Linked DNA regions of Homo sapiens: region 2 is linked to region 1. Evidence: fine-mapped QTL for protein levels in blood plasma. Region 1 holds a variant in brackets. A gene starts in the other region. All regions are shown on their reverse strands.

Region 1 (13,873 bases):
AGAATTCTGGGCCTGGCTGAAAGGAGCAGCGGTTCCTGCACTGCTATTGGCGATGTACTCAACTCCAACATGTGCCTTGGTGTGGAGACGATGTCTGTGAGCTTGCCTGCATGTCACTGTGAGACATATGCCCATGAATGCTCTGAGACAAGGGAGAGATGTACTCAAAACCACAGCACTGGTCACTTCATGCCCAGGGCCAAGCTGGACCTGAGATGGTATTTGTTTGTTTTTGCATTTAGGCAAGCTGCCTCTGCCAGTCTGTCTCTCACCCTGTAGAAATGGAGCACAAGATCCCAGCAAGATACCACCTTATGGGAGGGGCGCAAAGCCCCTCTGCTCGTACTCATGATGATGATTCTGGCTCCCACAGCCAAGACCAAACTAGCAACCAAAAACTCTACACATTAAAAAGCAAAAACAAAAATAAAATGAAATCTTCTGGAATAAGAAGTAGATTATTCAAACATTTTCATAAAAAAGCAACTGACTATGGGCAGAGGGAAGGATGAAAGTATTCTGTATGATGCTACAATGGTGAATATGCATCATTATACATTAATACATCAACACCCGTAGAATGTGCAACACCAAGAGTGAACCCTGTTGTAAACTGGGGACTTTGGGTGATAATGATGTGCCTGTTTATATTCATCAATTATAGTACAGCTATGAGCCACATAACAATGTTTCAGTCAACAATGGACAATATGTATGAGGGAGGTCCTACAAGATTAAAAAGGAGCTACAAAATTCCTATCCCCTAGCAATGTCATAGTCATTGTAACATTGTAGCACAATGCCTTTTAGCACATTATCTTTTCTATGTTTAGATATGTTTAAATACACAAATACTTGTCGCTGTGTTACTACTGCTTCCAGTATTCAGTAGCATGCTGTACAGGTTTGTAACCTAGGAGCAATAGACTATACCATAGAGCCCAGGTGTGTAGTAGGCTCTACCATCTAGGTTTGTGTAAGTACAGTCTATGCTGTTCACACAATGACTAAATCACCAAAGGATGCATTTCTCAGAATGTATTCCTGTTGTTAATCAACTCGTGACTGTAAATGTGTGGCTCTGATGCAGGATGTTGATAGAGGGGGAGGTTGTGTCTCTGTGGGGAGAGGGATATATGGGAACTCTGTCTGCTTAATTTTGCTGTGAACTTAAAACTACCCTAAAAAATTAAGTTTATTAATTTCTTAAAAATCAACTGAAAAGTCACTTCATTTATTTAAACATTTTCTGGAATTGAGATAAATAAATCACGTCATAAGATGAGCTTTCTAAGTAAAACAAATTTAAAATATTTGAACAAATCTTGGCATCTCAAAATGTTTAAAAGATATAGCATATCTTTCTTTTTTGGAGATGGAGTTTTGTTCTTGTTGCCTACCCAGGCTGGAGGGCAATGGTGTGATCTCGGCTCACTGCAACCTGCACCTCCCGGGTTCAAGCGATTCTCCTGCCTCAGCTTCCTGAGTAGCTGGGATTACAGGCATGTGCCACCATGCCTGGCTACTTTTGTATTTTTAGTAGTGACGGGGTTTCTCCACGTTGGTCAGGCTGGTCACGAACTCCCGACCTCAGGTGATCTGCCTGCCTCAGCCTCCCAAAGTGCTGGGATTATTACAGGCGTGAGCCACCGGAAATGTAGATGAGGCATTAGTTAAGAACACATTAAAAGATTAAATATTTTCAGTAGTACTCTCATAAAATAAATAATTAAGAAGTATGCATTTTCTTACTTAGGAGAAAGTAAATAGAGAACCGGGAATCAGAGCCAGGGGATACGGGTTTAATTCAAGTTCTTTTGTTTACTAGGTATTGACTTTAAGTAATTTAACTTCTGAGTCTTGGTTATTAATTGGCAATTATTTTATGGGTGGCTGTGAAAACTGTAATTATTGCATATATAAACACGTTATTTTAATTTTTAAATTTTTGGTAGAAATAGAGTCTTTCTATATTGCCCAGGCTGGTCTCAAACTCCTGGGCTAAAGTGATCGTCCTGCCTTGGCCTCCCAAAGTGCTGGGATTACAGGCACGAGCCACCATGCCTAGACTAAACATGTTATTTTAAAGAACAACATTAATGTGTGTTTCATTCTAAACATGAGACTCTAATACTGCTGAGGGATGTTATAAATTTCATAAAAATAGAAACTGACAATATTGAGAAAAAGAAATAAAGTGAATGATATAGGGACTTGTAATAAAGCAGATACATCATATTATCTCAGTAAGATAATAATAATGAACATTAAACATTTATTATGTACCAATCACTTTAAATAGCACATTATTAAATTATCTTAAAGCCTATTCATTATTATCCTCACTTTATGAATGAGAAAGCTGAAGCTTAGGTTAAAAATCTTGTTTAAGGTTACATATTTAGCACTCTCCTCATCCTAAGATTGATCTGATTCTAGATTCTATTGCCTTAACTCTTTGACATACCATATATCTAGTGGATACATGAAAAACTAAACACAATAAATAAAAGGACAAAGGACAGTAATGAAGAGACACTTTCCATAGTTCTTAGAGGAAGAAACCTCCACTTTGCTACACTGCTCTAGTTAAGTCTATCCCCATGCCCCGATTCTAGAATTGACCTCCAATAGTGTTAACACATTGTCATAATCAGGACAGCCTGTGTGTGCTTCACATACGACACCAGTTAGAAACAAGACATCACCAATGAAGAGCACACAAAATAAAACTGCTTCACATGATATTCAAGGCCTGTTAACCCCTGTCCTTCTCTCTGAGCCTCAACTTACCTTCCCACTCCTAACTCCTCTCCAGTGCTCTAAGCTCTTGCCAGTTACTGTGACTAGTCCCAAGTTGGCCTCCCAACTCTGCCTCCAGGCATTTCCTGGTGTTCTGTCCTCCAGGTAGAAGGAGGAGATTTGCAACTGTGCTTGTTCAAATCACATGCACATCCCTTTCTTCCCCTTAAATCCCCAAAAGCCCTTGCCATCTCTCCTCTACAGCATTTATCAGATACCAAGTCCTAATCCTTTTACATCTCCAATAACAATTTGAACTGCACCTTGATGTAGAAGGACTAAAACTTTTTATTACTAGAAAGAATCTTAGAATTTATCAAATACATCTATTACTCTATAGAGAAGAAAACAAGGCCTAAATGTTAACTAATGGGTTTTTTTTTACAGTTCCAGAACCAAATGAGAGGGTTGGAAAATTTTGTTTCTCCCATCAGTCTTTCTTCTGGAACAACTGGTCTACTGGCAAAATGACGTTTTGTTTACATCAGCATATCCCAAGCTGGAGTTTGGAAGAACTATACCTAGAAGACGCTATGTAGTCAAACTGTATGGAAAACTCTAGGTTTCCTTCTGCAGGGCTTCTTGTAGACTTTATAAGGCTAAAATGCACTGTGAGTCTGCAAAAGTGAGGGTTAAAACAATTTCAGAACTGACTGAGCTATTGTCTCCATCTGTCCCAGAAGGCTTATCATCCCCATCTTCGTAAGTAGCATGCAGTGGAATGTGCGTCAGAAAAACTAAGTGCTAACTTGTTAGTGATCAGTCACATTTTAGCAAATTCAGTATAAATACTTTCCACACCATTAATATAAAATTTAATTTGGCATAAGGATTTTTTACTTATAATTTTATACTACCTTCATCATTACATGAGGACTAGTGACATACATATTATCATGTCAAATATGTCTGTTTAATTAGTGATAATTAAATATTCAGATGTATAAAGAACTAAGTAAATATTCCTGTGTCATTTTGACTATAAATAAAATTTTAGTTATTAAGTTGAACTTTTATTTCCTTCTTACAATCCATAAATAATGTAACAGTCTATTCAAACAAAACTATTAGCAAAATTGAACAAAACTGCTGAATATAAACTAAGCCCTAAAAATAAATGCATAAGATGTAGAAAGCAAATTAATTTGAGTCTGAAACATTTTGTAGCAGAATTGCAAGAAAAGTGAACTAAGGCAAATTCACCAGAAGTAGAATAGGCAACTGTTTTATGAGTATGGCATGTTGTCAACTAAAAGATAAAAATATTCAAGCCATAGTTAAAAGTTCATGTATTGCTCTTCCATAACACAGGCAGTTTGTAGTGAGACTAAACAAAGGAAAAATGATAACTTTTCTAGTCAATGCAAAGGACGTTTGTGGCCTAGCTAGACTAAAGCTGAGCTTCCAAGCTAGACTAAAGCTGAGCTTCCAGTGCCAAACCAGTGGCCTAAATGAAAGAAAGGTCTCACTTTCCTTCTTACCTTTTACTCACAGCTTGCCAGTTGTTGACTAAGAAGTCTTTTGCGACATACCGGCCAACTTCAGATGAAGCCACAACCTCAATTATATTTGTTTCATTAGAAGTGAATGGAGATGTGCTGATGGCATACTCCATATATCTGCAAAAGTGCATTTTCAAAAAATACATTTTAAACATCCAACATAAAGAGTTAATTTAAATAAACAAAATCAAAATCCCATGGTTCTAAGGTAGTGAAGCACAAATACGCAACGTTTTAATACTTACATTAGCACATTTCTATTTTTTTTCCTTTATTAATTTAATTCCTATAACAGAAACTTTCAAGGTAAGTTGACCATAATCACCTGTTAAGTATCCATGGGTCTTTGCTGCAGCTCATTGCATAAGCAAGTTGAATCTTTTCTTCTTTGTTTGTTGTATTAGTGTAAGTATTTAACAAGATGTCCCACTCTTTATCACTTCCCAAGGCAATGCCATAACATAAAACCACATCTTTAATTGGATAAGGTATTCTGTAAAATATAACATAAAATGATATTTTTCATAGTAGTTATGTTTACCCAGGTTATCATATTTTAGAAGTATGAATCTAGAAAAAATATTTATAGTCACAGATATAAAGGTCAAAAGTAGGAATCTAGAGAGGCAATTATCAGAACTGTCATTAGCATTAGTTCCATGAGAAGAGATCATCAAATTCCAAACTAAGGGGCTTTAAGAAAGAAGTAAATTAGAATAGTATAGAGTATATTGATAATACAAGTTGGTCTTGTATCTGATTATCATGTTTCCTAAGAGTCCATCCGAGGTGCTATATCAAAGGTAATAAAACCAAAATGAGAGTTTCAGAGCTCAGTGAGGCAACAAACTAAGAGAGAGATGGAGAGAGAGGTGCTCTGCTGCACTCATAGATATAACAATCATAAACAATCATAAAGAACAACCTATTAAGACTCAAAACAAGCATAGACAGCTCAAAGTAAGTGCTTATTGGAAGAGTGCTTTGGCAATGAGAGGTCCTAGGTGACAATTCATTGTATAAATTCTAGTCTATCGTTATACACAGACCCACATTAAACACTGGTTTTTTAAAAAAGGTATTTGAAAAGAATAGTAGGAGAGAGCGCCTAACCAAGTGAAAGCAAAACACTCATTCCCACAGTGAGTACATCAAAAAGGGAAATTGCTGGTGCTAAAATAGGACAAAAACAAGAGGAATTATGATATTACTCTTACTCATTTTCTGGATGATCCACCCATTTTGCGAAAAGTTCTTTTGACAGCTGAAGGCAGTCTTCAAGGCCCAACCAACACGCAGTTACAAAAAGTTTTTCCAGTGATATTCTTGAAGAAAAAGTCAAAGAAAAACAGTTTATTTTGCATTACCACCTTCATTTTCTCTGCCTCCAAGAATATGTGTTTCATAAAAAGATGGGTATTTTTAAATATCCTTTCAATGACATCAGGTTTGTTTTAAAAAATTGTTTTTGTGGATGACAGATGTATTTAAGATTCAGAGAAATATTTACTGAGAGGCTCTTAGGCACCAAAAAGAGCTCCTAAAGCCAGTATTTTTTGAAAGTTAGAAACAAATTACTGCCATCCTTCATCTCCCTTAAACACACATGGGTGTACACACTCTCCACAGCTGTTGTCAATTTATTTTTCCTGTCTTTTACTGCAATTGCCTTATGGATAAAAAATGATTTCAGAGTATCTAATCTAATAGACTTTAAAATAAAGTTCTTTCTCTATAAAAGAAAGGGAAAGGGAATAGTTCATTTCTCTCCTTCTACAATTTGTTTTCTTTTGCTTTAGTGTGTTTCTTCTACTCCTCCTGGCTGTTACATACATGTTCAGGAAAAGAATAAAGGTGTTTGGTTGGTTTGATTTGTTTTCACAGCTGAGCAGGGGTGTACACTGTACTTCAAAACAAAATAAGTTCAAAAGAATACAGTGAAGACCAATAATAAATCCAGGTAAGTGATGCCTTGTGGTCCCTACTCCAGATTTGCGGTCAGGGTAAAGAAACCCAAATTGGTCATAAGTTTCCAGAAAACGCAAGCGCCAAATCTCTGTTACTCCGTCCTCCAGTTTCAACCCAGCCTGGCCTGACCTTCTGATAAGCTGAAGAGGAATGTGCAAGGGTGGAGGTCCGCTGAGAGACAGTTCTAGGCATTCATTTACATACTCTACTCACCCCCTCTCCTCACCCATCCCAATCTCAAGCCGGTAGCAACAAGCTGGAGTTCTGTGGAAGTGCAGTCTAACTCCCTAGAGCTTCTCTGAAGAGAACTGTCCCTGGGATGCTATAAAAAGTAGGCTACTTCAGTCCAATTTAGGAGAGCCAAGGAAATGTCTGGTTAACAAATGTGCTGCCTGATTGAGCACACTTTTGCCTTCCCACTCATTCATACAGATTGCCTAACCATTCTTGATCCCAGCTAGTCCTTACCATTGTCCACCTACTCATGCATTACATTTTATGTCCTTCTAATCACATCCCTTAGCACTAAAATTTCTGCCCTCCCAGAAGAGTACTATTGAGACAGAATAATCATACTTTGTATATTTTGTATTTCTTGCTTGGTCTAATTGATTTGAACCTGATGTTTACCAGAAGTTGTAGGTATAATCCCTATACCGTTATTGGCTACAGAGTCCCTCCCTATATCTAGAGACCATCCTACACACAAAACTTAGGGCACAGGGAAGACAGAAATACTACCACCCCATTTTGCCTCTTGCCTCCTTCCTAGACCACCATGACAATATGCTTACTCTCCTCACCAAACCAGTAATATGAAAGTCATTTGTGAAACTAACTTGTGCTCACAGACCTATAGCAGTGACTGATCTATATCACTGTCAACCTACTTCATCTTACCTGCATAATGACTGAATTTCTGTTAATAATAAAATACAGATGGGACCTTTTCCCCTGTGGCTTTCCCACGCCCTTCAACTCACTGGTATAGGCTAGCTTTGCTTAGTACATCTTCACCAATAGTAGGACACATTTATAATTTCAACCAGTAGTCTAGGCTTTGAGAATATAGAGCTATAAGCTCCTATGTGTACATGCACGTGCTTTGCAGGTAAATTAAGATCTCAAACGATTAACTTCTGTTAGAATACATGTAGCCCACCAACCTCTGAGCTATTGTTCTCAAATAATAATAGCATATAAAATCTCTCAATGAATAACAGATATGAAGATTTTATTTTATTACTTCTGGAAGCCTATTAATATGAATGCATTTTATTCAATTATCACTTCTGAAAACATACTTACAGAGCTAAGTAGTCATCTTGTAATGCCAACACATTTTCACGAATTATAGTTGAATAAATATTCCATATTAAATTAAGTCTCTTTAATAGGTACCTCTATAAACAATAAAGAAAATACACTGTTAGTTCTGGCTTGCAAACACTGAATTTTCACTGTGTTTCTATTTATTTATCTGAAAAGACATTGATAGACAAGTGGCAGATATTTCTTCAGAAATTACCTTTATCTGTTACTAAATATATAACTGGTTTATTTTTTAACCTCTTTCGGTTTAGTTCCATTTTTCATAAAATGTGGTTTACCATAATACCAATGTTACAGTGTATTATGAGGATTAAATAATATAATATATTGCAAGCACATTGCCTGGCACAAAGCAAGAACTCAAAAAATATTGGCTATAATGATCATTTAACATCATCCCATACATTTCCAGTTATGTTCAAAATAGAGAAGAAATGTAAAAATATAAAATAGCCTTTCTACCATAAAACATCCATGCTAAGTATACATTCCTCAAAAAAAAAGAACTGGTTTATGTCCTGGACACACTGAAGCCCTAATTTTGAAATAAATATAAGCTATTAGCTGGTAAATATAAAATTATAAAAGTTAGACATTTACTAATACATCCCTAAGAATTAACTAGCTGCTGTTCATTGAAATTCTTTGAAAACAAATATTAGTTTTACTTCTTTACCCAGAACAAGTCATCAGATGTTATCAACGAGCCTCCTCAATCCCACCAAAATTTTAGTGCCTTCTTTTATTAATCACCATCCCAAGCTCAGCTTAATTCCCATTGGTACTTCGGCCACTAGGAAAAAGAAAGTCTGGGGCCGTTAGACGTATTTGTGATCTCACCCTCTGAATGGTCCAGAAATTCACTTGAAATCATTACCTAACATACTTTTTGGTTTGTGTGACCCCTAACTCCCCAAAGAGGGCTACCTAACTTTCGCTTTGATTTTACCTTTGCTATTTTTTCCTATAATTACTGTTTAAGATCTAAAAATGGAAATTTTTTTTTCATTTATTATGGCATGTCATTTCTCTGTTCAGTAATTCTAATTTCTCTCTTTCTTTTCCTAATATCAAAAGCATCTTCAAATTTTTACATTTTCTGGAATATATCTCTCTGGATTTAAGTGCTGTTCCTATGAGTCAGAATATTGAAATTATAAACACAGAGTTGTTACATTTCATTCTGGCTGCCTAACAATCTCTTAGGAAAATAGTTGCTAATAAATACTATCCTTTTCCCTAAAAAAAAAAAAACAGGCATACCATTTCCATCCACTTCTGGTTTCTTAGGACATACTGTCACTTCACCAAGAATGAAGTACCCTTCCAAACCTCACTCATCTCCTAGACCAGGTCTATGACTAAGGTATTTTCTTCTAAGATCAATCAGCCCTTGTTAAGGAAATGTATATACTTCCATATATATATATATATATATATGGAACTAAGACTATTACTTTGGAAAAGACCTGTCTCACAGATGCTGGCTAAAATATGAAAAGAAGAAGAGAGGATTTATTTAAAAACTACATAAGAAAGAATGAAATTACCTTTAATAATGAGTATATATCATAGATGTTCACCTCAGAAACAAGATCCCTGGTTACCAAGTTTACCAAGACTGTATGCCATACTATAATTTCATCTTCTTCAGCAAGGTACTTGGTTAACTCAAGTGCTGTTTCAATCTCAATATAATTGTTTCTGTTTGATTTAAAAACACACACACTCAAAAAACCTTCACTTGCTAAGTAATTTGCATACGTTCGATATTTGTTCCATGTTTCAATGCATGACTTCAATAAGGCATGTGAATAAGTCAAGAAACGAGAAGGTAAATGTCCCATCTTATAGAAAGGATGAAACCCAAGCAAAGTTGACAGTCCTTCCATTTCA[A/C]TTTGGTACTTTCAAGTGTCCAAAGTCTTGAAGGCTAGAGAAAATTCAGGCCAAATGTTGGACTGATTATTAGGAAATAGAAGAGTTATGCATTCTGTATGCATTCTTATGACAGCATAATTTGCATTCAACAAATATTAATTAGAAGTCATTCTCTATCTAATGCTCTGACAGCTACTGATGTGCACACCAACTACAGGCATACCTCAGAGATATTGTGGATTCTGTTCCAGACCACAATAAAGCTAATATCATAATAAAGCAAGTCATACAATTTTTTTGATTTTCCAGTGCATATAAAAGTTATGTTTACACTATACTGTAGCCTATTAAGTAGCAATGGCATTATGTCTAAGAAAAACAGTATGCACACCTTAATTTAAAAGTAGCTTATTGTCAACGAATGCTAACAACAATCTGAGCCTTCAGCAAGTCATAACCTTGGCTGCTAACTGATCAGGGTGGTGGTTGCTGAAGCTGAGGTGGCTATGGCAATTGCTTAAAATAAGCAACAATAAAGTTTGCCAAATTGCTCAATTTCCTTTCACAAAAGATTTTTCTGTAGTATGCGATGCTGTTTAATAGCATTTTACCCACAGCAAAACTTCTTTCAAAATTGGAGTCAATCCCCTCACACATCCTGCTTGCTGTTTTGACAACTAAGTATACGTAATATTCTCAATCCTTTGTTGTCATTTCAGCAATGGTCATAGCTTCTTCACCAGGATTAGATTCTTTCTCAAGAATCCACTTTCCTTGCTCATCCATAAGAAGCAACTTCTCATCCATTCTAGTTTGATCATGAGATTGCAGCAATTCAGTCGCATCTTCAGGCTTCACTTCTAATTCTAGTTCTATCACTATTTCCACTGTATCTGAAGTGACTTCCTCTACTGAAATCTTAACCCCTTAAAGTCACCAATGAGGATTGAAAACTTCTTCAAAACTCCTGTTTATATTGATTTTTTTTACCTCCTTTCATGCATTGCAAATGTTCGTAATGGCATTTGGAATGATGAATCCCTACCAGAAGATTTTCAATTTACTTTGGCCAGATTCATCAGAAGGATCATTATCTATGGAAGCTATAGCCTTACAAAATGTATTTCTTAAATAATAAGAGTTAAAAGCAGAAATTACTCCTTGATCCCTGGGCTGAAGAATTGATATTGTGTTAGTGGGCATGAAAACAACATTAATCTCCTTGTACATCTCCATCATAGTGCTTGTGTAACCAAGTGCATCATCAATGAGCAGTAATATTTTGGAAGGAATCTTTTTTTTTCCTGAGCAGTAGATCTAAGCAATGGGCTTAAAATATTCAGCAAACCATACTGTAAACAGATGTGCTGTCATCCAGGCTTTGTTTTTCCACTTACAGAGCACAAGCAGAGTTGATTTAGCATAATGTTTAAGGACCCTAGGATTTACAGAATGGTAAATGAGCATTGGCTTCAACTTAAAGCTACCAGCTGCATTAGCCCCTAACAAGAGAGTCAGCCTGTCCTTTGAAACTTTGAAGCCAGGCATTGACTTGTCCTCTCTAGCTATAAAAGGCCTAGAGGGCATCTTCTTCCAATATAAGACTGTTTCATATGGAAAAACCTGTTGTTTGGTGCAGCCATTTTAACAATTATCTTAGCTAGATCTTCTGGATAACTTACTATAACTTCTACATCAACATTTGCTGTTTCACCTTGTACTTTGTTATGGAGATGGCTTCTTTCCTTAATCTGCATGAACTAACCTCTGCTAGCTTTAAACTAGCACCTTTTCCTGCACCTTCCTCACCTCTCTTAGCCTGAATAGAATTGAAGAGAGTTAGGACCTTGCTCTGGATTAGGCTTTGGTTTAAGGGAATATTGTGGCTGGTTTGATCTTTTATCCTAATCAATGAAACTTTCTCCATATCAGCAATAAGGCTGTTTCACTTTTTTTTTTTTAATCATTCATGTATTCACTGGAGCAGTACTTTTTAATTTCCTTCAAGAACTTATCCTTTGCATCTACAATTTGGCCATGTGGAGCAAGAGTCCTAGTTTCGGCCTATCTCAATTTCAACATGCCTTCCTCACTAAACTTAATCATTTCTAGCTTTTGATTTAAAGTGAAAGATTCAGGACTCCCCCTTTCACTTGAACCCCTAAAGGCCATTGTAGGGTTATTAATTGGCCTAATTTTATTTATTTATTATTATTATTTTTTTAGACGGAGTCTCGCTCTGTCACCCAGGCTGGAGTGCAGCGGCATGATCTCTGCTCACTGCAAGCTCTGCTTCCTGGGTTCATGCCATTCTCCTGCCTCAGCCTCCCGAGTAGCTGGGATTACAGGTGCCCACCACCACACCTGGCTGATTTTTTTTGTATTTTTAGTAGAGATGGGGTTTGCACTGTGTTAGCCAGGATGGTCTTGATCTCCTGATCTCGTGATCCACCCGCCTCGGCCTCCCAAAGTGCTGGGATTACAGGCATGAGCCACCACACCCGGCCCTAATTTCAATAGTACTGATTCTCAGGGAATGGAAACGCCAAAGAAGAGGGAGAGAGATGGAGGAATGGCTGGCCAGTGCAGCAGTCAGAACACACACAATTATTAAGTTTGCTGCCTTATACAGGCATGATTCATTGCACCCCAAAACAATTACAGTCATAACATCATCAATTCCTGTTCACAGATTACTGTAACAGATATAACAATCATGAAAAAGTTTGAAATTTTGTAAGAATTACCAAAATGTGACCCAGAGACATAACATGAGCACATGCTGCTGGAAAATGATGCTGATAGACTTGCTTGACTCAGAGTTATCACAAATCTTCAATTTGTAACAAATGCAATATCTGTGAAGTCTTAAAGCAAAGTACAATAAAACGAGGTATGCCTGTAGTACATATGACACTGCACTTGCCTACCATTGAGGAGCTTCAATGAAGAGATGAGACTTATGCATAAGAAACCAGTAATGAAAGGTCCCAAAGGCAGTGAATACTACAAAGTAGCAAAGAAGGAAAATATGCACATATAAAAGTCAGGGATAAGATAGAAAAGTCAAGGAAGGCTTCATGGAGGAGAAACTTGAGAAGAGCAGTGAAGGATGCATAGGATTAAAATAGGTAGAAAAAGAGGAAGGCAGTCCAGGACAAATAAGATAAGGTGGGAATTAGTGTGATGGGCCGATGAAGCTAACTGAGGCAGGGGATTTCCTTTTTGTATAGTGAGAAATGGGGCCTAATAGGTAAGTTGGCTCAAACCTGTGAAGATCCTTGAATGTCAGGATGAAGAGTTTAGATTAGGTGGAAAGGTACTCTGGGTATTTAAACAATTGGAATAGCATAATGAAATTGATGTCTAACAATTTTATTGCAATAGTGTTAAAGAAGACAGAATGAAATTCAAAAGGACCGAAGGCTGGAGGCTAATTTAATAGGCCAGGCAAGAGATGATGAAAGCTTGGCTTAGTGTGGGAGCAGTGAAAGTGGTAAAGTGAGCCTCCAAAAGACATTTCTAAGAATGAAGAGATAGGACTTGGTGACTGTGCATGTAAGATGAAGCAAAGAGAGGAATCAAGGATATCTCTGAGGTTTCAAGTTTGGGTGATGAAAAGAAGAGTAACTTTGACATGCAGGGAAAAATTGATAGCAAGAGCAAGGTGGAGACAAAAATGAAGTTCAGTGTTTAAGGCACTGTATTTGTATGACCACAGGATAAACCTAAGACAGGGGGAAAGATAAGTAGCAATGTAGATTTGGAAGTCATCAACATGTCCTTCCGCAAACATTTACTGAGGACCTTACATCTGCTGGCACTCTACAGATACGTAATAAAATGGTCACCAAAACCCTAGAGTGAATGAGTTATCAAAGAAAAGATAGAAGAAAGTAATGTAACCATGATTGGTCCTAAGAAGCTCACAGCAGTAGAAGAGGAGTCAGATACATGAGGAGAACCAGGTTTGCATATCAGAGTCTCAGGAAGCCAAAATGACATTTTCAGGTGGATGTAGTCAATAATAGCAAAGTCATGGTGATCTTAGAGACAGAGAGAGGAATTTCAGCCAAGTATTAGACAAGGAAATGTACTGTAAGTCACAGAGGGAAAAAGGAGGAAAGAAGGATAAAATAAGTAGACATTTATTCAAACAATACGGCTGGCTAAAGAAAGAGAAAAAATACTAGATAATGTATTACATATATTCCTTAATTTTATTGCCTGAAAATTTAAATTCTGAACATTTATTAATTTACCTGGTTAAACACTTAGCAGCATATCTTACACTGAGTAAATCTAATATAAATAAAATAAATAATTCTGCAATATATTAAAATACAGGCAAGATTGCATTAAAATTATAGCCATCACCCTTGGAAAACAGA
Region 2 (15,225 bases), not on the chromosome of region 1:
TCCATCCTGCAAAGACCCTCTCCTCCATAAATCCTCTAGGCCACCTCAGACCAGGTTCATCTCTCCTTTAAATCCTGGTTTGTCGTTTCTGTCCTATTGCTTGTCCTTTAATAGGATAGCTTTGGTTTCACGTGCATACCCCTGGTCTCAACAATGTGGCTGTGTGCTCTTAAAGAATGTCAGGGTCAGGAAGAGAGTCCACTGCCCTCTTCAGCAGCCTCATCCTTCACCTACACACCCATCTCCCTGAGGGCCCCCAATTTACTGCTGGCTCCATCCTTGAAGGGTCCTGACTCTCAGACTCTTTGACATAGCAGACACAAGGGAAGAACAAACCAGGTAGACACACTTAGTCCACGTTATCCTCGGGAAACCATGAAGAACCAGGTCCTGGTTCCCCAGTTAGAAAACCCTTACACAAGACATGATCTCATATGTAGCTCTAGCCTAAACTTCATGTTAACCCACAATCCCAACCTTATTGACCACACCTCTAAACCCAACTCCAACCCCATTCCCAAAGAAAACTCTAAATCATAGTTTTTCAAATAAGACTCTGGGAACAACTGTACCCAGACAGATAATGCTGGTGGGTGTGATCCAAAAATGTTTACATGGCCAAATAAGTTTGAGATAGAAAACTGATCTGCCCTCTCCCCAGGAGCTGAATGCCTCCCTCCTCTAGCTGGATCATAGCTGCAGGGGCCACTCTGTGCCCCTCACCTGTGGAGGTCCTGGAAAACAGCCAACAACTTGTCATCTACATCAGATCAATACCACACGTTATGCAGAAGCGTAAGTCCCTCTCCAGACTAGCTTGAAAGCTTAAAACCAGGCCGGGTGCAGTGACTCACACCTGTAATCCCAGTACTTTGGAAGGCTGAGGTGGGCAGATCGCTTTGAGCTCAAGAGTTGGAGACCAGCCTGGGCAATATGGTGAAACCCCCTTTCTACAAAAAAAATGTACAAAAGTAAAATAAAATAAAACAGCTGGGCATGGTGGGTCACATCAGTAGTCCCAGCTACTCAGGAGGCTGAGGCTGGAGAATAGCTTGAGTCTGGGAAGCTGAGGTTGCTGTGAACTGAGATTGCACCACTGCACTCCAGCCTGGGTGACAAGAGTGAGACCCTGTCTCAACAAAACAAAACAAAACAAAACAAAACAAAACAAAACAAAGCAAAACAAAACAAACAAAAAAGGAGAGAGAGAAAACTTAAAAGCAACCTCCAACACAAAATTTATCTCCTTGGATTAAGATCATTTAGGATTTAGGTTAAGATCTCCTCACTCTTAATCCAAATCCTAAATGCAAGCAGTGCCCTACTCCAACCCTAACACAATCCTCATCTAAGATACGCCTGTTTCTATCAACAGGAACCGCAAACCCAATTCCAAATCCTACTTTAACATCACCATGATTCCAGCCCTATCCAATTTGGAACCACAACATCAATGCTGTTCTAAGCATAATCCTAACTCTAACCCTAACCCTTGGTAGAGCTACACATTGATGAATGCATGCAACTACACTAGACACACACATTTTGCACACTTATGACTCCGAGAAACTGAGTAGCTCCTTCAGTAACGGCTGCACAGTCCACAGGGCATCTTATTTCTAGAGGGCTCAATGCTCCGCTGAGAACCCAGGAGCAGCAACGCACCCAGGCCCTTTGACCTTTGTTGGATATACAGGCCCATGGGCCCCAGCCCACCCCAATCCTATTCCAGGACTTGCCTAGCCCTTGAGCTGAAATTCCCGCCATACCCCTCCCTGGCTCTTGCCTGCCAAGCTGGGAGCATCTGCTGCCCTGGAAACCCCACCAGGCAAGAGCAAACGGGCCTGAGACTGAAGGGAATGTGGCCCTTTCCAATTAGGGGATTTCCAGACTCTTGCAACACCCACACCTAGGATGTCTACTCCAGGTGCCTGTCCTAGAGAGGTAGTGGGCCTGCTGAGGTAGGTGTGAATAAGCACACTTCCTCTCCCCCTCCCAGGATCTCAGTCTGGTGAATTCATCATCACGGGTAGGGCTGAAATCAGCCATGTGTACCTCCTTTATCCTTCACCCCAGGTACCAGTGAAGCACTCCTCTGCACCTAGGCCATCCCAGAGGTTGTCACAAAGTAGCCAGTTTCTCTCAGGAGCTCACCAAGCCAACATCTTCACCCAGAGGACTGGAACTGTAGGTGGAGACCCACATCTCGGATGTGCAGCCATCTGAGTCTTTGTGTCCCCTTCCCCAAGCTCTGCATCCAGCCTGGTCTGAGGACTGAGAGGAGCTTGGGTCAAAGCTGCAGGCTCCAAATCCCCAAACCCAGCTTACAGTTCAAGTGGGGCTGTGGGGTACAATAAACCCAGGCCAGCAGCTGAGGGCAGAGGAATGGCTCAGAAGACTTGGGGTCCCAGAAAAGGGTAATGGCTCTCTCATCATCCGAGCTCCTCACTCTCTTCTACCCTGCTTCAGTGCCTCCCTCTCACCACCCCTGCCACCAGGTCCACTCACAGACTGGAGACGGGGTAGGGACTCGCTATCCCATCCTCACTCTCAGGGCAGCTGTTTTCTGCGCTGGATTTTGTCCAGCCAGGTTTCCACCTCCAGAAAAGCCCCTACTGCTTCCTTCATTTCCCTTAGGGCTCCTAACCTTGATTCTAAGCTCCAGCACCAAGCAGACAGACCTCAATATCTCCAGGATGTAACATCTCCCTGAGACTGCTCTACCACTGCAGGCTCAAGTTCACAGGCAGGGGCTTAGGGTTGATGCCTAATCAACCTAGATTCCTGCATCTAGGAAGACCAGGCAGAGATGGGACCTAGGGGGTTGTGCACACCATCTGACACAACAAGAAGCTTCTTTCATGGCATGAATAAGGGTAAGGGAGACAGGCAGGTATCTTGGAGAGAAAGCAAGCCTAAGCTTTTAGGAAAGAAAAAGGTACAGCCCCCTCCTCTTCCCTGCCATCTCTCCTTTTTTTCTACAATCTGTGCCAGGCGAGAAAGTCTCCTCCTCCAGGGGAGGTAGAGGGGGCATCACTCCAGCTTTCCTTTCCCCAGACCAACTTTGTTCCCTTTCACCGGCTCTGTGTCAATCTAGAGTGTGGGATGGGGAGCAGAATAGGCCCAAGTGGCTCTCCCAGCCCCACCCCACCAAATGCTTAGAATTACCTGCAGAACTTGGTAAAAATACACATTTGTTGGCTCTATTCTGAGATTCTATTTAAGGCGGTCTGGCGTGTTGCTTCTAATTCTGTTTTTAAAAAGTCACCCAGGTGATTCTGAAGTGCAGCCAAGTTTGGAAGCAAACTAATATAATATGACTTCGGAATTATCTGCATGCCCCCTCCCAAGCCCATGCTATTCTATCTGTCTGAGAATTCCTCAGAGACAGGCTGCTCACTACTTTCTTAGTCACTCCCATTAGGCAGGTGGGGAAACCAGGGAGCTGGGAATTTAAAACTTTCTGGTTCCAGGATCTGCCTCTAGACCAGGTAAAAGATCCAAGAAATCTTATCTCCTTGTTTTTGCCTAGTCTTGTTCCAGGAACACCAGCTTCTTGCCAACAGAGTCACTCCCTGCCCTGCTTAAGGTCTCAGCCTTAAGGTCTCTTGAGTCTGAAAACCTCAGACTCAAGAGCTCAATTATTTCTCCTCTAGGCCACCAAATTCCAGCCCCTCTACTCTGTGGACCTTAGAATGAAACACCACCTCTTTATCCCCCTCCCAACAGTACCTCCATCTTCAACCCCATGCCTTCTGCATCCCATCCTTCCCCAAGAGCAACCCAATATTTCTGTCTCTGGCCATGGCTGTCCTGACTACATCTCTCCTGACACTCATTTCCTCCTCTTCCTATGGTTTCCCTATCCTGTCATAAGCCATCCTTCAAAAAACAAGATGTAAGGAGCTTGCTGCTGAGTTTAGCACTCTGGAAACCAGATGGATTCTCCAGCTCTGACGTGAGGATTACAACTCTAAGGTCCCAATCCAGTATTAAATATAGATTCTAAGTTATGACCCAATAACCCTCACACATCATATACCATAATAAACTCCAAATGGATAAAAGATTTTAAAATGTTAAAAATTAAACTACAGAAAAACATCATACAAAATGGCAGAGTAAGAAGTTATAGGGGTTGGTCCCTCCACCAAAGCAACTATTGAGGTGGAAAGAGCAATTGGAATCGACTCTTTCAGAAGTCTGGAGCCCGATTGGACACTTATAACAAGCAGGGGGGGTGGTACTTGATGAAGGGAGAGGTTGCTGGTCTTTCAGAAGAGAGCATAATGCATGCACTAGCTACCAACCAACACAGTGGGGATAGCAGCCCACATTCCTGAAGTAGCTGGGTGGTCACTGAGTGGGCAGGGGGAACCCTGTCCTCCAAAAATGAGGGGTTTTGCATTTGGGTTTGTCTTCTGGTTCCCTAAGGGACAGGCTTGCTTTGTTTCAGCCCTCTTGGGCTTCAGGATCTTCCTGAGCCACATATATCAGAAGATTTAAAGGGACAGAATCTTTTTGCGGGGAAGGAAGAGAACCCTTTGTCAGGTCATAAACAGAAATTTCAGTAACCCCACAAAACAAAGAATACACACTTTGCAAAAAACCGTTTGAAAAAGTCACCACAAATTGATGGCAGAGTTCTCAACAAGTGTATATCAGCAATCCCTAAGGAGTGAAAAAATTGAATTTCTAGAGATACCACACTGTAATATTCAGAATGCCCAGTTATCAACAAAAAATTACTAATACAAAGAAATAGGAAAGTATGGCCCATTCACAGGAAGAAAGGAATTTGACAGAGACTATCCCTGAGGAAGCCCAGATATTGGACATAGTAGATGAAGACTTTAACTGTCTTACTGTAAATGCTCAATAAATATTGATGATGGGAGGTTTGATGATAAGGGTGAGAAGCTGAAATCTCAAATACTGCTTTGTTGCTTGTTTTATTATGACCTCAAATTAAATTGGGAAACAATGGCCCTTTTGGAAAAAAAAAATAACTGTCTTAAATATGCTCAAAGAGCTGAAGGAAACCATGGGCAAAGAGTTAAGGGAAATCTGAAAAATGGTGTATGAACAAAATGAAACTATCAATAAAGAGATGGAAATTAGTAAAAAGAAAAAAAGGACTCAAGCAGAAATTCTGGAAGCAAAAATACAATAACTGAAATGTACAATTCACTAGGGGCAATCAACAACTAATTTAAGCAGAAAAAAAAGGATCAGTATTCTTGATGATAAGACAATTAAAATTATCAAGTATGAGAAGAAAAATAAACGAGCCTCAGGGATACCATCAAATGTACCTCATCACAGGAGTCTCAGGAGGAGAAGAGAGGGAACAGGGCATTAAAAAAATTGAAGAAATAATGACAAAACATCTGAAATCTGATGAAAAGCATGAATATACATACCCAAGAAGTTCACAAACTCTAAGAAGGATAAACTCAGAGATCCACACCAAGACAAATTATAGTCAAATTGTTGAAACCCAAAGATTTTAAAAGCAGCAAGAGAGAAGTAACTCATTATGTACAAGAGATTCTCAATAAGATTACCAGCTGATTTCAGAAACCATGGGAGGCCAAAAGACAATGGGGGATATATTTAAAGACTGAAGAAAAAAAAAAGTCAAACAAGAATTCTATATATCCAGCAAAACTATGCTGCAAGAATTAAGGAGAAATAAGACATTTCCAGATAAACAAAACTTAGGAAGTTCATTAATAGTAGACCTGCCCACAAGAAAAGCTAACGGGAGAAAGAAAAAACAAACAAACAAACAAACAAATGCTAAAGGAAGACCTTCAGAATGAAACAAAAGGACAAAAAATAATAACTCACAGCCACACAAAGAAACAAAGATCTCTGATAAACATAACAACATAGCAGGCTGGGCGCAGTGGCTCATGTCTGTAATCCCAGCACTTTGGGAGGCCAAGGTGAGCGGATCATTTGAGGTCAGGAGTTTGAGACCAACCAGGCCAACATGGTGAAACCCCATCTCTACAAAAAATAGAAAAATTAGCTGGATGTGGTGACAGGTGCCCATAATCCCAGTTACTCGGGAGGCTGAGGCAGGAGAATGGCTTGAACCCGGAGGGTGGAGGTTGCAGTGAGCCAAGATCACGCCACTGCACTCCAGCCTGGGCGAAAGAGTGAGACTCTGTCTCAAAAAAAAAAAAAAAAAAGTAACAACATTGCCAGGTATGCTGGTTCACACTTGTAATCCCATTACTTTGGGAGGCCAAGGCGGGTGAATTGCTTGAGGTCAGGCGTTCGAGACTAGCCTGGGCAACATAGTGAGACCTCGTGTCTACAAAAAATACAAAAATTAGCCAGGCATGGTGGCCCCACTACTCAGGAGACTGAGGTGGAAGGATCACTTGAGCCCAGGAGGTCGAGGCTGCTGTGAGCTGAGATTGTGCCACCGCACTCCAGCCTGGGTGACAAAGCGAGACCCTGTGTCAAAAAAAAAAAAAAAGATAAAAGCTAGTATTGTATTTTTAGTTTGTAGCCCCACTTTTTTCTATATAATTTAAAAGGAAAATGCATTAAACAATAATTATAAATCTATGTCAATGGGAACACAATGTATAAAGATGTAATCTGTGACAATAACAATATAAAGAAGGGACTAAAATGTATACGAGCAAAATGTTTATATACCATTGAAACTAAGTTGGTATTATTCAAACTAGGTTGTTATCAGTTTAGAATGTTAATTATAATCACCAAGGTATCCATTAGGAAAATAACTACAAAATATATAGAAAAGGAAAGCAAAGGGGAATCAAAATGGTTATGCTACAGACCAGGTGCAGTCGCTCATACCTATAATTCCAGCACTTTGGGTGGCCAAGGCAGGAGGATCGCTTGAGCCCAGGAGTTCAAGACCAGACTGGGCAACATAGCAAGACCTCATCTCTAGAAAAAATAAAAATGAAAAATGAAAACAGTAGCCGGACGTAGTGGCATGTGCCTGTGGTCCCAGCTCCTCAAGAGGCTGAGGCAGGCAGATCATTTGAGCCCAGGAGCTCAAGACTAGCCTGGGCTAGACATCGTGAAACCTCGTCTCTACAAAAAAAAAATAGAAAAATCAGCCAGGCGCAGTGGTGCTTGCCTGTAGTCCCAGCTCCTGGGGAGGTTGAGGTAGGAGGATCACTCGAGCCCAGGAGGCGGAGATTTCAGTGAGCCAAGATCAACCACTGCACTCCAGCCTGGGTGACAGAGTTAGACCCTGTCTCAAAAAAAAAAAAAAAAAAAAGAACTCTTACAATTTAATAATCAGATTTGCTGGAAGGAGGGGAAGGGTATGGATCCTGGAGCGTAGTGAGGAGACAGTCATGGTGTTCCAGGGGAGAGGCAGTGAGGCCTGCATGAAAGCAGTAGCTGGGAATAGAAGGAAGGCTCAGGCCCAGACATATTCAACTAATGAGGACATAAAATTTGGCAGCTGAGGACTGTCCACTTAGTTTGAGATAAGTGGGGCTGGGTGCCAGCAAATCCAGCTTTCAGGAAGGAAAAGGAGTGGGGATAAGTTAAGGGAAGTGAAAGTGTCTAGCTACATAAATAGCAGGCCAATCCCAGCCCACGCACAGACCCCCAACTTGCAGCTGCCCACCTCACCCTCAGCTCTGGCCTCTTACTCACCCTCTACCACAGACATGGCTCAGTCACTGGCTCTGAGCCTCCTTATCCTGGTTCTGGCCTTTGGCATCCCCAGGACCCAAGGTACCAAGGCAGGGAGGGGCCTTGCATGGGGCTAAGGGGATCAAGAGGCCTGGATAGGAGCTTGCCAGCAGCCCCTGGCTCCCTGTGAATCCCACCCTGCAGGCAGTGATGGAGGGGCTCAGGACTGTTGCCTCAAGTACAGCCAAAGGAAGATTCCCGCCAAGGTTGTCCGCAGCTACCGGAAGCAGGAACCAAGCTTAGGCTGCTCCATCCCAGCTATCCTGTGAGTGGACACAAAGGGGTGGGTACTGGCTGGTGACGGGGTGGGGAGGGCATGGTGGGCAAGACTAAGAAGGCTTACTAGCCCCCACCCGCAGGTTCTTGCCCCGCAAGCGCTCTCAGGCAGAGCTATGTGCAGACCCAAAGGAGCTCTGGGTGCAGCAGCTGATGCAGCATCTGGACAAGACACCATCCCCACAGAAACCAGCCCAGGGCTGCAGGAAGGACAGGGGGGCCTCCAAGACTGGCAAGAAAGGAAAGGGCTCCAAAGGCTGCAAGAGGTGAGGAATCTGAGGGATGTGGGTAAAGGGGAGCCTCAGTCAGCCCCTCACACCCCTCTTCTGCCCTCACAGGACTGAGCGGTCACAGACCCCTAAAGGGCCATAGCCCAGTGAGCAGCCTGGAGCCCTGGAGACCCCACCAGCCTCACCAGCGCTTGAAGCCTGAACCCAAGATGCAAGAAGGAGGCTATGCTCAGGGGCCCTGGAGCAGCCACCCCATGCTGGCCTTGCCACACTCTTTCTCCTGCTTTAACCACCCCATCTGCATTCCCAGCTCTACCCTGCATGGCTGAGCTGCCCACAGCAGGCCAGGTCCAGAGAGACCGAGGAGGGAGAGTCTCCCAGGGAGCATGAGAGGAGGCAGCAGGACTGTCCCCTTGAAGGAGAATCATCAGGACCCTGGACCTGATACGGCTCCCCAGTACACCCCACCTCTTCCTTGTAAATATGATTTATACCTAACTGAATAAAAAGCTGTTCTGTCTTCCCACCCAAGTACCTGTTCCCATGTGTTTATGTCCACCGAGATGCCAAGGTTCCTACAGGGTGGGGTCACACACTCTGAGCCGAAAGCTCAGGCTGAAAAATGCTATGTTCTCATCTACCCCAAGAGTTTCCTTGCCTCTCAGGTGCCTGCACCCCTGAGCAGTTAAAGGGAGGCTGAAGGACAGGGTAGGACCCAGTCTTCTGAGGCATCCTGCCAATGGAGAGGTGGTGGACATGGAGCACACACCCCCAACAGCTCTGCAGACCTCTGAGACCCTGATTCTGTCCTGCACTAACTCCAGGGGTGACCTTCGGATCTTTTCCATGACCTTCAGACCTTTCCCCAGATATCCCAGAGGCTTCCTCTCTTTTCCCTGGGAACTATTCAATGAGACCCTCCAAGTGGTTCTTTGGAAGGGTCCCTAGGAGGGAAGCTGTGGCTTGGGCCCATCTATAACACAGACAAACACAAGTTATATTGAAACCTGCCCTAGCACAGTTCCAGCCCTGAGAGAGCCCCTGGGAGGCAAAGACCCGAGGGGACTTGCTTCAGCCCTATTCAGTGAAGCTCGGGCCTTGACCTCTCCTCTTTGTTTAATGGGGCTGTTGTGCTCTCCTTCTATTCCTATCTGGGCCCCTGGACTCACTCAGCCTCCTTCCAGATGGAAAAACCTCCTCCCTTTTTTTTTCCTCCTTTCTTTCCTGGCTGGGATCCAGACTACTTTAGCCCATTTAACCCTTTGAAGTCAAGGAATAAGTCTCCTGGGGCAGGTTTTCAGAACCCCAGGATTCAGGTGTGAATCAGTCTCCTCTCCTGGAAGGCCTCAGATGGCTCTCCTCTACCTCTTCCTCCCCAGAGTGAAGACCCTTCTATTCCCCAAATCACCTCCAGGCGGGGAGAGTAGAAGCCATCAGATTGGGCCAGACAATGTGAGAAAGAAGGGAACAGATCCTGGGGAAGGGCAAGAAAGGTAGGAACCTCAAGGCCGGGCGCGGTGGCTCAGGCCTGTAATCCCAGCACTTTGGGAGGCCAAGGCAGGCGGATCATGAGGTCAGGAGTTCCTGACCAGCCTGGCCAACATGGTGAAACCCCGTCTCTACTAAAAATACAAAAATTAGCCGGGCATTGTGGCGGGCGCCTGTAATCCCAGCTACTCGGGAGGCTGAGGAAGGAGAATCACTTGAACCCAGGAGGCGGAGGTTGCAGTGAGGTGAGATCGATTGTGCCATTGCACTCCAGTCTGGGCGACAAGAGCAAGACTCCATTTCAGGAAAAGAAAAAAAAAGGAGGAGAAGAAGAAGAAGAAAGGTAGGAACCTCAGAAGCTAGAAGTGGCTGCTCCATCAACTTTTCCTTCTGTAGGAGCCTGAGTATGCCACAGCACTTACCACCTATCCTAACATCCTCAAGTATTGGCTTGTCTGCTCCTCTTGCAGCAGGTGAAGACAGGGCCTCTCCCCTGCCTGTCCTAGGGCAGCAGGTGTGAAATTAATCTATAAACTCAGATATGCAAGAAATACTACTTTTGAAATGTTCCTTAAATGAACTTAATTCCTACTCCAAGCTACTGCACTAGAGTGCTGATGAGAAATTCAACATCAGGCACTCTTGTGGGATCCCACCTGCCAAGGGTTATGCAAAGGTCACAGAAACCTCAAGGCCCAAGGGAGGCCTCCTACCTGCCTCCTACACCATCCTATCATTGGACATCAGTCTCGCCAGTGAGTGTTCTGACCCCTGTGGTTCCAGCAGGTATATCTCTTCAAGTCCTAGACTCCACATTTGAGACATAAGAATTCAGATATGACAGCCTCTGGGCTTGGACTTGACCTCCCCAGATACCCCCGAAGCCATCTACTCAACAGTCCTGTCACTTGCCCCATCACAGACAGAAATTAGAGCCCAGTGCCCACTCTGGCTGGATGTACACACTAATCCCTTCGCAGTCCTAAACAATTGTCTCCCTCTCCTCAGCCCCTCCAGGGCATAACCTCTTCCCCAAGTTTACAAGTTTACTTTTTTTTTTTTTTAAGGCTTGCTTTGTAGTCCAGGCTGGAGTGCAAAGGTAGGATCATAGCTCACTGTAACCTCAAACTCCTGGGCTCAAGGGATCCTCCTGCCTCAGGCTCCAAGTTGCTGGGATTACAGGTGTGAGCCTCTATGCCCGGCATTTTCCCCTGGTGTAAGACATTTACAAAAGGCCTTTGACGTCAGGCTCCCTTTGACATCAGGACATCACTCCCAGCCCTGCCAAAACTCTTGCCTACTCTATAGTGAAAAGAAAAACATAGGCAGAAAAAACAAAACTCTCTATTTCACTAAATTCTCCTGCCACACCTGCATGCCTGGTATTTGCCTCAAGCCCTGCTCTGAGTAAGCATGCAATATATTATTTATTCCATCAGATCATGACTGGCCACTCTCCTTGTCTGCCTTCATCTTTGACAACATTGTCCTGTTCTTTCTCTTTTCTCTCTTATTCTCTTGATGCATAATTCAAAAAATATCACATAATACACACTCACAGTTAAAAAATATATCCAAAAGTACCAAAAGGTTTATTCTGAATAACATAATTTCCTACAACTTTAACTCCTATGCTATTTCTTAGTGCCATATGTCTAAGTACTTTGCCTATACCTCTGTTTCTTGATTTACCTATTTTAAACATTACCAGATGACTTCCTACTATAAAAAGTGAAGATCTAACTCTCTTGCCAACTCTCCTCTCCTGTCACTGCATCCTCTAAATATAGTCATACCATAATATTTAGATCATGATTATATTACCATATTTAGATCATAATTACAGTTTATATTATTGTGGATTACTATTACATAATATGTATTATCACATATTACATTATTTTGACTATATAAATGTTCTCTGCAGACAAAAGTAGTGCACTTTTCCTTCGTCACTCATCTTTTTGTTTTTCTTAAAGGTTCTAATGCCCTTCCCTTTTTAAAATACCTCTATCTTGACATTGCCTTTCAAATTCTTCATCATATGAGATGGATTCAAAACATAATGTTTAAGATATACGTAGAAGAAAATATAGGTGAATGTGGTTATAACTTCGAGGTATAAAATAACTTTTTTTTAAAATAAAATGGAGACCAGGTCTCACTATATTGCCCAAGCTGGTCTTGAACTCCTGGGCTCAAGCGCTCCACCCGCCTCAGCCTCCCAAAGTGCTGGGATTACAGCCATGAGCCACTCTGCTTGGCCAAAAAGAGTTTCTTAAACAAGTCATAAAACCATAAAACGTAAATCATTAAAGATCAACACCATTAAATTTAAAAACAAATCGGAGTTCAGGGTAGGGATGGAAAATTAATTACATGCCTTTATTTTCACTTCTCACTGAGCCCCGACTAAAACTACAGTAAATTTTTTTGGTGCATGTATGCGTGTAAAGGCATAAAGCAAGGCCAGGCGCAGTGGCTTACGCCTGTAATCCCAACACTTTGGGAGGCCAAGACGCTCACTTCAGCTCAGGAGTTTGAGACCAACCTGGGCAACACAATGAGACCTCGTCTGTACAAAAAATAAAAAAAAGTAGCTGGTGTAGTGGCATGTGCCTATGGTCCCAGCTACTCAGGAGGCTGAGGTGGGAGGATCACTTGAGCCTGGGAGCCATATAGCCTGGGCTAAAAAGTGAGAGACCCTGTCTCAAAGTAAATAAATTAATTTTAAAAATAAAATAAAGGCATAAACCCCCAAGAGCCCAAATGGGAGAGGAGATAAAGGTAACTTTCCAAAAGCCTACTGCTGAGACACGTAAATATTTCAATAAAAATAGATACAAAGCATAAAATCAAATTATAAATATGAAGGATTTCTAATGTCTTATTCGTGAATACAGTAAAAATTCATATTTACTGAATATTCATATGCCAGTATCCAACAGGGAAACAATGACTTCTACTAGAGATGTAAAAAAAAAAAAATCCTAAAGATGAATTATCTCTAAAATCTACAAAATCTTCATTCCTTAAGCATGAAAACTCATTTTAATCCCTGGAATCCTGACTTTTCTTTATCACAGAACCACAGAAGCAATTTATTGCTTTAAAAGTGAGTTATCACTATGTTCTAACAATGAGTCCTCCTCAGTGTCATCCAGAAAATTACTAATACCATGTATTTTTGTTGTTTTTATTTGCTCCTTTTTTGAGATAGGGTCTTGCTCTGTCACCCAGGCTGAAGTGAGTGGCGCAATCTCAGCTCACTGCAACCTCAACCTCCTGGGCTCAAGCAATCCTCCCACCTCAGCCTCCTGAGTAGGTAGGACTACAGGCACACACCACCACACCCAGCTAATTTTGTTCATTTTTTGTAGAGACGAGGTCTCACTATGTTGCCCAGGCTGGTCTTAAAACTCCTGAGCTCAAGGGATCCTCCCACCTTGGCCTCCCAAAGTGCTGGGATTACAGGTGTGAGCCACTGTGCCTGGCCATACCATGTTTTTAAATAATTTCACCACTATCTCTTCCACAAAATGATAACATACACACACACACACACACACTAATGAAATCATGGGCTGACTCCCACTTGTCAGTGTTGCCTCAGAATCTCCTCCTGCTTCTCCCGGTTCACTCCTTCCTTGTCAATATTTTAAGGGCTTCTTTGATACAGATATAGAGGATAGGTGGGACTAGTAAAGAATTAGAGCTAGCTGGGCATGGCAGCTCACGCCTATAATCCCAGCACTTTGGGAGGCTGAGGTGGGCAGATGGCTTGAAGCCAGGAGTTTGAGACCAGCCTGGGCAACGAAGCAAGACCCCTGTCTCTACAAAAAAAAAAGAAAGAATTAGCCAGGCACGGTGGCACAGGCCTATTGTCCTAGCGACTTGGAGGCTGAGGTGGGAGGATCACTTGATTGCCTAGGAGTTCGAGGCTGCAGTGAGCTATGATCACACCATAGCTGATCATAGTGGAGCAATACCCCACCTTTAAAAAACAAAAAATTAGAGCTAATAGATCTCAGGCCAGGAACCGTGGCTCATGCCTATAATCCCAGCACTTTGGGAGGCTGAGGTGGGAGGATCTCTTGAACTCAGGAGTTCGAGGCTGCAGTGAAAAACAAACAAGCCTCAGTTAGTCCTATAAACCTGAAACCAATTCCAAAGTAAGCAGTCGGCCAGGTGCGGTGGCACACACCTGTAATCTCAGCTCTTTGGGAGGCAGAGGTAGGAGAACGGCTTAAGCCCAAGAGTTTGAGATCAGACTGAACAACATGGCAAGGCCCTGTCTCTACATTTTATTACAAGAAACTTTTTTTTAAGTGAAAGCAAGTTTATTAAGAAAGTAGAGGAATAAAAGAATGGTTACTCCATAGGCAAAGTAGCCTACAAAAAAACTCTTAAAGAGTAAGCAATCAGATTTCTTAAGAACCCCTCCCTTCAGGATACTTGGGCCACACTTTGGCTGGCCACAATTCCTACTTATTAATGATATCCTTTTAGAGGGCTGTGATTACCAACAACTGTCGGGTTCTTTCTTTTGATACCTTTCTTTTAAAAATTAAAAATAATGGGCTGGGGGCAGTGGCTCATGCCTGTAATCCCAGCACTTTGAGAGGCCGAGGCGGGTGGATCACCTGAGGTCAGGTGTTCGAAACCAGCCTGGCCAACATGGTGAAACTCCATCTGTACTAAAAATACAGAAATTAGCCAGGCATGGTGGTGGGTGCTTGTAATCCCAGCTATTCGGGAGGCTGAGGCAGGAGAATTGCTTGAACCCAGGAGGTTGCTGTGAGCCGAGGTCACACCATTGCGCTCCAGCCTGGGCAACAGAGCAAGACTCCGTCTCAAAAAAAAAAAATTTAAATTATGGGGCTACCAGAATGACACACTAGGTATCCTCTACCATGCCAAATGACCTAGTGGGAGTCAGAGGGGTGGGGTCTGTCACTTGTTGTCTATGAAAGGTGACATTAATTTGTTTCCCAGCTATAATCGCTTACCTGTGAAATATGTCTTAAGCTTCAGCTGGTATCCTTTGTGAAGTTCTTTTTCTTTCTCACATCCAGGCATTACTTCTCCTTGTATCTGGGGACAAAATAATGCTGTTTTGTTAAAGTCATCAACGTTTCTATCCTTTGCCATCAGTCTTGGGCTGGATTACCATTTTTATGGATGCTGAAATTGCCAACTCTCTTTTTTTCTAACGCCTATATTTGTAATTCTTTTTTTGAGACAGGGTCTTACTCTGTTGCCCAGGCTGGAGTGCAATGGTGCAGTAATAGCTCACTGCAGTCTCCAACTCTTGGCCTCAAGGGGTCCTCCAGCCTCATCCTCCCAAAGTGCTGGGATTACAGGCAAGAGCCACTGTGCCAGGCCTATATTTGTAATTCTTCTAGTAGTGCCTACTTTAAGGGGAATTGTATGACCTTGTGACCTTGGTGACCTACGTCTATTGCTATGTCAAGAAGCTGAAAGCTCTGTTTTCTTCAAGACAACCATTTCTCAGTAGGCAGCAAACTAA

Direction of the effects. Positions count from the first base shown, and alleles are read on the strand shown. Strength reflects both the effect of a copy and how common the allele is.
For the plasma level of the protein whose gene starts at base 7,607 in region 2, A is the high allele of the variant in region 1 and C is the other (weak association).

The links. A credible set is the group of variants that fine-mapping cannot tell apart. PIP is the chance, under the fine-mapping model, that this variant and not a neighbour inherited with it causes the effect. Protein levels are from antibody-based Olink assays in UK Biobank. Linkage for the fine-mapping came from a reference panel and not from the study's own genotypes, which makes the PIPs less certain.
Region 2: CCL21 starts here. The variant in region 1 is the best candidate, but not a certain one, in a credible set for the plasma level of the CCL21 protein (UK Biobank, PIP 0.59).

Annotation. Positions count from the first base shown.
Region 1 is chr5:116,006,176-116,020,048 of GRCh38, reverse strand. LVRN (laeverin) reads right to left here. Exons shown (of 20, transcript NM_173800.5): 14 at 9,155-9,308; 15 at 7,581-7,675; 16 at 5,522-5,629; 17 at 4,630-4,797; 18 at 4,284-4,421. Among named protein-coding and RNA genes, the nearest start is that of ARL14EPL, 19 kb to the left of the region's middle. The variant A/C (reference allele first, on the strand shown) is at 9,501.
Region 2 is chr9:34,702,518-34,717,742 of GRCh38, reverse strand. It overlaps CCL21 (C-C motif chemokine ligand 21), which reads left to right and starts at 7,607. Exons shown (of 4, transcript NM_002989.4): 1 at 7,607-7,743; 2 at 7,846-7,966; 3 at 8,061-8,243; 4 at 8,316-8,738. The coding sequence starts at 7,677. The coding sequence ends at 8,349. It also overlaps a transcript of PHF24 not described here.